2 separate regions of the Homo sapiens genome follow, and region 1 is linked to region 2. The links come from fine-mapping of genetic effects on gene expression. Tissue or cell type: monocytes. Region 2 holds a variant in brackets; the other region holds the start of a gene. All regions are shown on one strand. Distances are from middle to middle. Region 1 holds the start of RHOU (ras homolog family member U). Region 2 has its middle 36 kb from the start of RHOU.

What was found.
Region 1: it holds the start of RHOU, and the variant in region 2 is fine-mapped to the expression of RHOU in monocytes (Quach 2016, PIP 0.95).

What each region holds. Positions count from the first base shown.
Region 1 is chr1:228,733,682-228,738,078 of GRCh38, forward strand. It overlaps RHOU (ras homolog family member U), which reads left to right and starts at 1,798. Exons shown (of 3, transcript NM_021205.6): 1 at 1,798-2,323; 2 at 3,992-4,050. The coding sequence starts at 2,062.
Region 2 is chr1:228,696,841-228,701,237 of GRCh38, forward strand. It overlaps a transcript of RHOU not described here. Among named protein-coding and RNA genes, the nearest start is that of RHOU, 36 kb to the right of the region's middle. The variant G/T (reference allele first, on the strand shown) is at 2,256.

The DNA.
Region 1 (4,397 bases), 37 kb after region 2:
GCTACTGGAACCCTTCTAGTGTTGGGGAAAGTAAGACAGTTAAGGGCACCAATGTGACTCTCACAGAGGGTCATAGGTATGTCAGTGGTAGCCATTCCTATACCTGGATGGCTAGCAACAACATATCTACATAGGAGAACTGTAAACCACATAAATATATCCTGTCATCACAGCCAGGGCGAGGGAGAGGCAAGTCAGGTACCTGAGGCTCAAAACTTAACATTGGCACTTGCCTGACCCTGAGAGTAAGGGCCCTCTAAATTTGTTGTTTTTTGATATTGCCTCTGAATGCTCAATTTGTCATAAATTTTGCATCCTTGACATCCCCCTTATCTCACCTTCATCCTGATTCTGTATCCCATTACACCCAAACAACCTGTTTGGGTCTCCCCAACTTCACTTTCTTTGGCTGATCCCCAAAATCTTCATGGCCTCTTCAAAGTCACTCAATATGAGGGTAAGTTACAGTTTAAAAAGACAGTGAACATAACTGGTGGTGATTAAAATACTTTTTTTTTTTTCAAAATTTACAGAAACATATTACCACGTGTACACATTGCTAGGTCTTCCAATGTGAAAGTGTCCTTTGCAAGTCAGGGGTCCTGGATTCAAGCTTCTAACTTCTTGATAAATCCATCTCTGCATTCTGACCATGGCCATACGTTCAAGATTACGTTTATCATACTGACTTATTTTTGCCTCCAGGATTTTGGTTAGAAGCTCAGGCTCTGGGGCTAGACTATTTGGGTTTGGATCCTGGCATTGCCACTTACTAGCTTGTGGAATCCCAAAACGTTACTTAATATCTCTGTGCCTCAGGTGTTCTCATCTGTAAGTAATGTTAAGATTAAAAGAATTAGTTCTTGAAGAGTGCTTACAACAGTATCTGACACATTATGAAAGTTCAGTATTTGTTATTGTTATTTTTACTACCACTAGTATCAATGTGTATTAATAATATGTGGCCCTTCTCACACCACGCTGTACACCCCCAGGACTCTTGGTATTCTGACTTGGCTAAGAGGCGTCCTTTTTCTGAATAGACTGTTGACCACATGTAGAAGGAAGGCAGAGAGAGAAATGAATCAAAGGGAAACGGAATATTTTTTCAGACATATTAATGTCTCCGAATTACCTTTAAGTAAATGAAGGAATTGGGGGTATAAAAAAATTTCTGGAGCATACATGTATAAAGGTTCACGGCATGCCGAAAGACAAAGTCAAAGGAGCATTCACAATGGAGCTGGCATCCTTTTGCTTCAAAATGAGAAAAAATCACACGATCAGCTGCAGTTAGACTTAAGGAAAAAAGCTGTCTGTTAATTCAATCTCATTCGCAGGACAGGCCTCCAGGACACTTCATTTTTCCCCCTGGGTGGAGCCGTGGCCAGCCGGGGGCTCCACGGAGTGAATAGGAGGCGGCTCAGGCTTCCTGGCTCGCGTGGGCGCCAGAAAGCGGAACCTCCCGGGCCAGTCGCGCGGTGGTCACCCTCTTGGGAGCTGGGGAGGAGGCTGCGGAGGCTGGCCCGGCTCCTTCGGGCGTCGCTTCCCGGACCGGGTGCGCGGGGTCCCCCGGAACGTGTGTTCCAGGTCCTCCCGCGCCAGTGTTCGCAGTCCCCGCCTGGTCGCGGCGGCGCCTCGGGCGCGGGTGCAGGCGCGCGGCGCGCAGGCGGGGGGCGCTGTGGTCTTGGCGCGGGGACCGAGCCGCTCGGCCAGACCCGCCTCTTTTCCCTCCCCGCCAGCCCGCCCGCCTGCCCGCCCCCCACGCGTCGTGTCGCCGGGAAGCCGGGCGGAGACAGAGCGCTTGGGATCCACGGCGCTCGGACCGCTGTCCTCCAACAGCGCAGGGCAGAGCGGCTGGCGCCGCCGGAGCGCGGAGCCACGACCCTCCCTGGCCGCCTTTGTCTACTGGCCGTGCGGCCCGGAACCGCCACTCTCCAGGGCCGGGGACGCGCCCGCAGCTGTCGGTGACAGCTCCTCCCTACCGCAACCCTCCGGGGCGGAGGGGCGGTCGGGCCGGGCCCTGCTAGCCCGCGACCGCAAGCCCGCGCTCGCGGATCGATGCCCCCGCAGCAGGGGGACCCCGCGTTCCCCGACCGCTGCGAGGCGCCTCCGGTGCCGCCGCGTCGGGAGCGCGGTGGACGCGGGGGACGCGGGCCTGGGGAGCCGGGGGGCCGGGGGCGTGCGGGGGGTGCCGAGGGGCGCGGCGTCAAGTGCGTGCTGGTCGGCGACGGCGCGGTGGGCAAGACGAGCCTGGTGGTGAGCTACACCACCAACGGCTACCCCACCGAGTACATCCCTACTGCCTTCGACAACTTCTCCGGTGAGCTGGCCGGGGGGCCGGGGCCGGGGGCGCGTGGCCGCGGTCCACCCAGGGGAAGGAAGGTGGCGCGAGGGTCGCGAGGTTCCCAAGGGGGCTGCAGGGCCCCGGGCGCGGCTCCAGCTGGGAAGCCGGACAAATGAGGAGTGCAGGACGTTTCCTGAGTCTCAGGGACCGGGCAAGCGCGGAGCTAACACGAAAGGACCACGGCGGAGTGGGCTTGGAGAGAGGAGGGCGGAGCGGCAGTCAGAGCCTTGCCAAAAAAAAAAAAAAAAAAAATCTCACAATTTAAGCAACAGATAAGTAGGAGTGAAACAGGTTGAGTTCAGGGTGCCCGGTCAGTTTGTTGCATAGAGCAAAGTTTCCTGAGGGCGACGTCGCTGGCGCCGCTGCAGAGTTTCAATCAGAAGGTGACGCGCAGGTGCCTTTACCTGAGCGTCGCTCCTTTGCTTTTAGGCGGCTCAGCTCACAAGGGGCGTCTCCGCTTTAAAGAGCCGCGGAGACGCCGGGAAAACACTTGATTTAGTGAAAAAGCGCGAGCGGCCCTCGTGAAGGCTTAGGTTTGGATGAAACCTGAAGAGTAAACACCATTTCTTTCTTCTGAGCCCCACCACCTTCCCTGCCCACATGGGCTCGGATTCTGATTGTTGGTATCTTTTCAGGATCCCTTTAAGCTACTTAAAGCTCCTATGTACCGGGTGCGATGCCATTTCCCTTGGTAGATACAAAGAGAAAGGAATTCTCTATCTTGCTATTCAGGTCTTTTTGAAATTTAAGAAAAAGTTAAAATTCACAGAAACTAGTATGAAACACTTAACTGTCTTGCTTCTTTAAAAAAAAATTGCTTCTCTGACCTTCCTTTCATCCCAAAGGTACCTTAGAGAAATGGGTGCTGTACTGGTGGGTTCCCACCGCAGGGTATTGTTTCTTCCCCTCCCCCCACCCCACCCCTGCAGCTGACTAGTATAAATATTTAGAAACAATTAGAAAGTTGTGTAGAAAGAGACAAAACTGACTGCTTAATTAAAATAGAAACCTCCACAACATGTCCTGCTGCAGGCCTCTCCACACTCCCCGAGTCCCCGGATCCCAGTGGAAAGGGGGCCATGGCTTTCTTTTTTCTTTTTTAATCCTCCTTTTGACCTGACATAGAGATAAGGAGTGCCCTCATTTCTTAAACAGGACAATGCGGGCAGCCTGTGTTTGCACATGTTCTCAAAACACACTAGAATTGTATGATAAACCCTGAAGTTGGGGAACCTTTCCCAAGGGAAAACAGAATTATTTGTGAGGTTTTCCACTGATTTAAAACTGCAGGGTTGCTTCCCATTTACCCCCAGTGTTGTTTTTAGGTCCTTTGAAACAAGTGTGACAGGAAAATAAATCTTCCAGGACTGGGAGAAAAGCATAGGCCTTTTTAGGGTCACCATCAAAGCGTTCAGGGATTTGCTGCCTGGTTCACGGTAATGGAGTGACTTGCCAGCCGTGGGTTTGTATACAAAAATGCCTCCACAGGGCCTCCTTGTTTTTGGCTAGTCTTTAATTCATTAGAGGACCTAAAATAGGAGCAAAGGGGTTTGGAGTGAGAATGATAGTGAAAGCTAAAACTATTAGTATTCCGAAAGGGGTTAAAAGACACCTCCTGATTGTCATTTTGGTTTTGTTTTTAAGCGGTGGTGTCTGTGGATGGGCGGCCCGTGAGACTCCAACTCTGTGACACTGCCGGACAGGTCAGTATCACGTTACAGCTCAGTGCTGGGAAAGGAAACAGCCTTTTAAAGATTTCCAAATAACCTTTGATTCCCTCAGTCAGTAACTGGGTCATTCTAAAGCCTCATGAAGTGGACCCACCCCTGCTGTTGGCCCTTCTCTGAGGGTGGGCAGGGGCCAGGTTATTGGCCGGCAGGAAGCAGAGGAAGATACCTCCAAACTAATAAAGCAGGGTTTGGCCCAGCTCTGCGTAACCAGGCAAGGGAGGAAGCAGTGTCAAGAACAGCTCTTGTAGGAGTTTCTATTACTTACTCCCTGGTTTTTATGAAAAAATTTCAGTGATGCTTTGTCATCATTTCCCAAACTA
Region 2 (4,397 bases):
CTGGTCATGGGTATATCTTTGATCATTCCCACAGTATGCCAAAAGCAATGACTGACATTATTGATGAGATTAATAAGTAAAGAAAGTTGGCATATAAGAAATAATAAACCTTAAGACATGAGAGAGTAAAAGTCCCCCTGAAGTTTGAATTCCGAGGTCTACATATTCCTGGTGTCAGTGCTCCCACCAGATCTGACTAGATGGTTTGATGATCCTAGTTGGCTCAGGATCACATTGCCAGGCCACCAGTATTACTGAAAACACAGGACAGTTAGATGTAATAAAAACAAATGTTTTGACAGCCTTCTGCATGCTGAATATGCTATGTTCTTGTCTTTCAAGAGACATGGCAACTGCTTGAAACACAGAGATGTGTCAAAACTTTCATATTTACTTTAGGATTCAGAGCTCCCCCAGGAATGGCAAGTTGCATATCCTGTAATGAAATTTTATCTTGTGTAAGGCACAAACGCCCTGAATATTCATTCCTTTTGTTTTCTTTTCTGCAAAGAGACAAGCACAGAGACCCAGAGGAAAGCTTGGCCTGGAGCCAGCACAGGAGTCAGATGTGATGTGTGGTTTGGATTTTTAGAGAGCGTTTCCAGCATCTGCTTGCTTGGTTGACCAATAGTGTTGGGCAACAATCAGTAAGGCCGAGTTGCCAGGACTTCTCTAGGGCAGTGCAGAGGAAGGAATTTAAGGGACGGAGAGATTAAAATGCTGAAATAGGTTTATCGTGCTGACTGGCAGCCTCCTTGTCCCCAAATCCAGAGGGCATCCCCTTCTCTAAGATGCTGAGAAATGCACCGATGAGGGAAGACCCACAACCTTGAAGAGCTCTGTAGTCACTGTTCTCAGGCCTGGTATTGGTGGAAGATGTTGCCATTGAAATGTGCTCCCTGATTTTAGAGGACAATGAAATCCCAGGGACAGTAAAACCACCAAAGGCCAGGTGGGCAAATGATTTTCATGGGTAGTTAGAACTAAGCAGTAATCTGAGTGTTTTGTACCACAAGATTTTTGGGGTGACTAGTTTGTCACTGTATCCTTAGGAATGAAATAGGTGGGCAGCCTAGCTTGATCTACTTAATAGCAATCATTTAAGTTTTGTTCCAGTTATCTATCATTTCAAAACTTAGGAGGTTGAAACAATGATTAATTGTAATTTCAGACATTCTGTGGGTGGTTTGTTTTCTTTTTTATTTGGTAGAACATGCATAACATAAACTGACTATTGTAATATTTTGACGTCTACAGTTTTACAGATCATGCATTTCTTTGAGGTTTTTGTCATTCTAGTCAAAGGGAGACCATTTGACATTTTATGAATGGTTGTATGAAAACATTTAAAACTTTTGAGAGAATACAGTGTACCAGAGAGACTACTATTATGACTATTAGGAAGATAATACCAAGAGTTTGAAGTATGTTCCTTAGCCAAGATCCCCATAAACAAAACCAACTAAAATTAAATGATCAAAGAATGAGCTAAATACAAAGTCTACTTGTTTTAACCAAGCAGTCTGTTTGTTAATACCTTAGAACTATGTCTCTATAATACCTGATGTATTTATCTATGTGTAACCAGAAGTGTCAGTAACTGTGCAGATACTTTTCTGTTTAGCCAGCAAGTAATCTAGAGCAATTCTATTATTTACCACCATTTTAGTATGAGAATTTAAAGAAGTCTGTTGTGTAACCACAGTCTTTGCAGAAGAATCTATTATACAGCCTTGTAGAAATTTATGAGGGATACATTTTTAACTTTTGTCTCATTTACTCTAAACCATGGAAGAAAAGACCTAACAAATCATGCCCATCCAGAAGAGTGAAGGCCTCCTGGCAATGTTCTTATAGACAAAGGTTAAGAGGAGTGGACCAATGTTTTGTTTTTGTCTGATCATGAAGTAATGAAAGTACCATTAAATTTTTTCCCCCACATCGGCCCTTTGTCTTTCCTTTATTAAGGCATAAAGTTGTCCATGTATAAAGTTGACTGTAAAATCTTTCACAAATAAAAGTATACCACATGAGTGTATACAAGACCCCTTTTCTTGTTTTATTGTTTATAGAGGCATATGTAAGGAAAAAATTAAGAGATAAGAGTGTCTTGATAGTAGAAAAGTTTTGTTGTAGTGTGGGTGGCAAGAGTAGTCTTTCTCTGATTTTGTTTTCCAAAAGACCCAATCTCAGGGTTGTAAATCATGAAGAGTTTGGTTATCCTCAGTCGGTGGGCTATGAAAAGTTTTTTTTTT[G/T]TTTTTTTTAACCTGGTGAAAATATACTCTGGCATAATGTATTAAAGCCTTACCGGGCTGGGTAGGGTGGCTCACACCTGTAACCTCAGCACTTTGGGAAGCTGAGGCAGGAGGCTGAGGTGGGAGGATTGCTTGAGGCCAGGAGTTCAAGACCAATCTGGGCAACAAGAGTGAGACCCAATTTCTACAAAAAATAAAAAAAATTAGTCAGGGGTGGTGGTGTGTGCCTGTGGTCTCAGCTTCTTGGGAGGCTGAGGTGGGAGGATCACTCAAGCCCAGGAGGTTGAGACTGCAGTGAGACATGATTCCACCACTGCATTCCAGCCTGGGTGACCGAGAGAGAACCTGTCTCAAAAAAAAAAAAAAAAAAAAAAAAAAAAGCCTGTAGCATTTAGTCATATAGAGTTTAGGAGCAGAAGATACATGAGTTTCTGTTATTAGAAGCATAGGCCTTCAAGTGATTATTTCATAAGAGGCCAAGTTATATTTTCCATGAGAAGAGGATCTGATTGTCATTAATCTGTAAAACCTTTGATCAAGGCAATCCGGTCAATTAAGTTAGCTTTGGCTAATGCAATTGTATCTGTAGTGACTTATTTAACTGTTTTATAACGTGTCTAGTGAAACAAGTACCTTTATTGGTGGAGATTTTTCTAGGAATGTCCCATAAAGAAAAAATATGTCCTAATAACCTTTTAGTTACTATTATAGCATCAGTTTTCTTGCATGGGAAAGCTTTCATACTACCAGAAAACAGGCATTGAAAATGACAGTTGAATGAAATCTCTCTATAAATCTTTAGTTGGCCTATCAGATAGCAGAATATACCTAAAGTTTTTATTATCTTTCTAGAATTATAGGTTTAACAAACCAAACATTGATATTAAGACCGTTTTAGTAATCTACAACAGTCACTAAAATTATGTATATAATTTGGATAGTTTTATCTTTTTTTATAATGAGTCATGGATATAGAGCTTTATATAATGGAAGTTTTAAGGACTCAGGAAGAACCAGGTAGCCATCCAGGTTCTCCATGAGTCTACGCTTAACATTTGATTTATATCCTCTTAACTACGAATTTTGTTTCTCTAATTTAGGTGCAAAGCACTGTTTATTAGATAAGTTATCATAAGTAATTTGACTTGAACAATGGAGTTCATTTAAACTGCATATCTAAACAATTTTAGTACTGGCTGATGTAGCATGAAAATCTGGCAAAGTATTTTCTTGGTATTCAATTAATTTTTGTCTTGCTTGTGTTAGCAGTTTCATAAACCAGTCAACCCCTTTGTTAGAGTTCTGGGAATTTCTTACCCAGTCTAAATGATACGATTCTAGTCATGACAACTCTGTATTTAAGAATTTTTGTCAGAGTCCTTTTTATCTTTTTCATGAACTTCCTTGAAGGCACAGTACTTTAGGAGTTTATTTGCTTGTAAAGAGCTTTTAGAAACTCTATCAGAATTAAGCCATTAACTGTGAACATGATTAAGGTTGCAATTGACAAGAAAATTTAGTTATTTCTAAGGACATAATAACCATAATTATGACTGATAAAATATACCAAGACATGTCAGAATTTTAGGACTATTATACAATTTTCAAACATATATTAAAATAATATATTCATAAAAATATAACTCAAAGAAAGTTAACTGCAGATCATTTCTTATTTGACAATGCTTTTCATATAATCTAACATATTAGGCTTGGCATGGTGGCTTATGCCTGTAATCCTAGCACTTTGGGAGACCGAGGCCGGTGGATTGCTTGAGCCCAGGAGTTCAAGATCAGCCTGGGCAACAGAGCAGGACCCCATCTTTACAAAAAACACAAAAAAATTAGCTAGGTAGGGTGGTGTGCACCTGTAATCCCAGCTACCTGGGAGGCTGAGGTAGGAGGATTGCATGAGTCTGGGAAGTTGAGGCTGCAGTGAGCTGTGACTGTGCCACTGCACTCTAGCCTGGGCAACAGAGTGAGAGCCTGTTTCGAAAAAAATTAAAATATATTAAGTAGGCATGTTTATTTGTCTTTTGGATGCTGTATGGGCCCTCTGTAGCATCCCAAATTTAGTTTGAGGTTTAAAGAGAGTTAATTTTGAATTTTAAATTTGATTTTGGGAAGGCCGTCAAATATGTC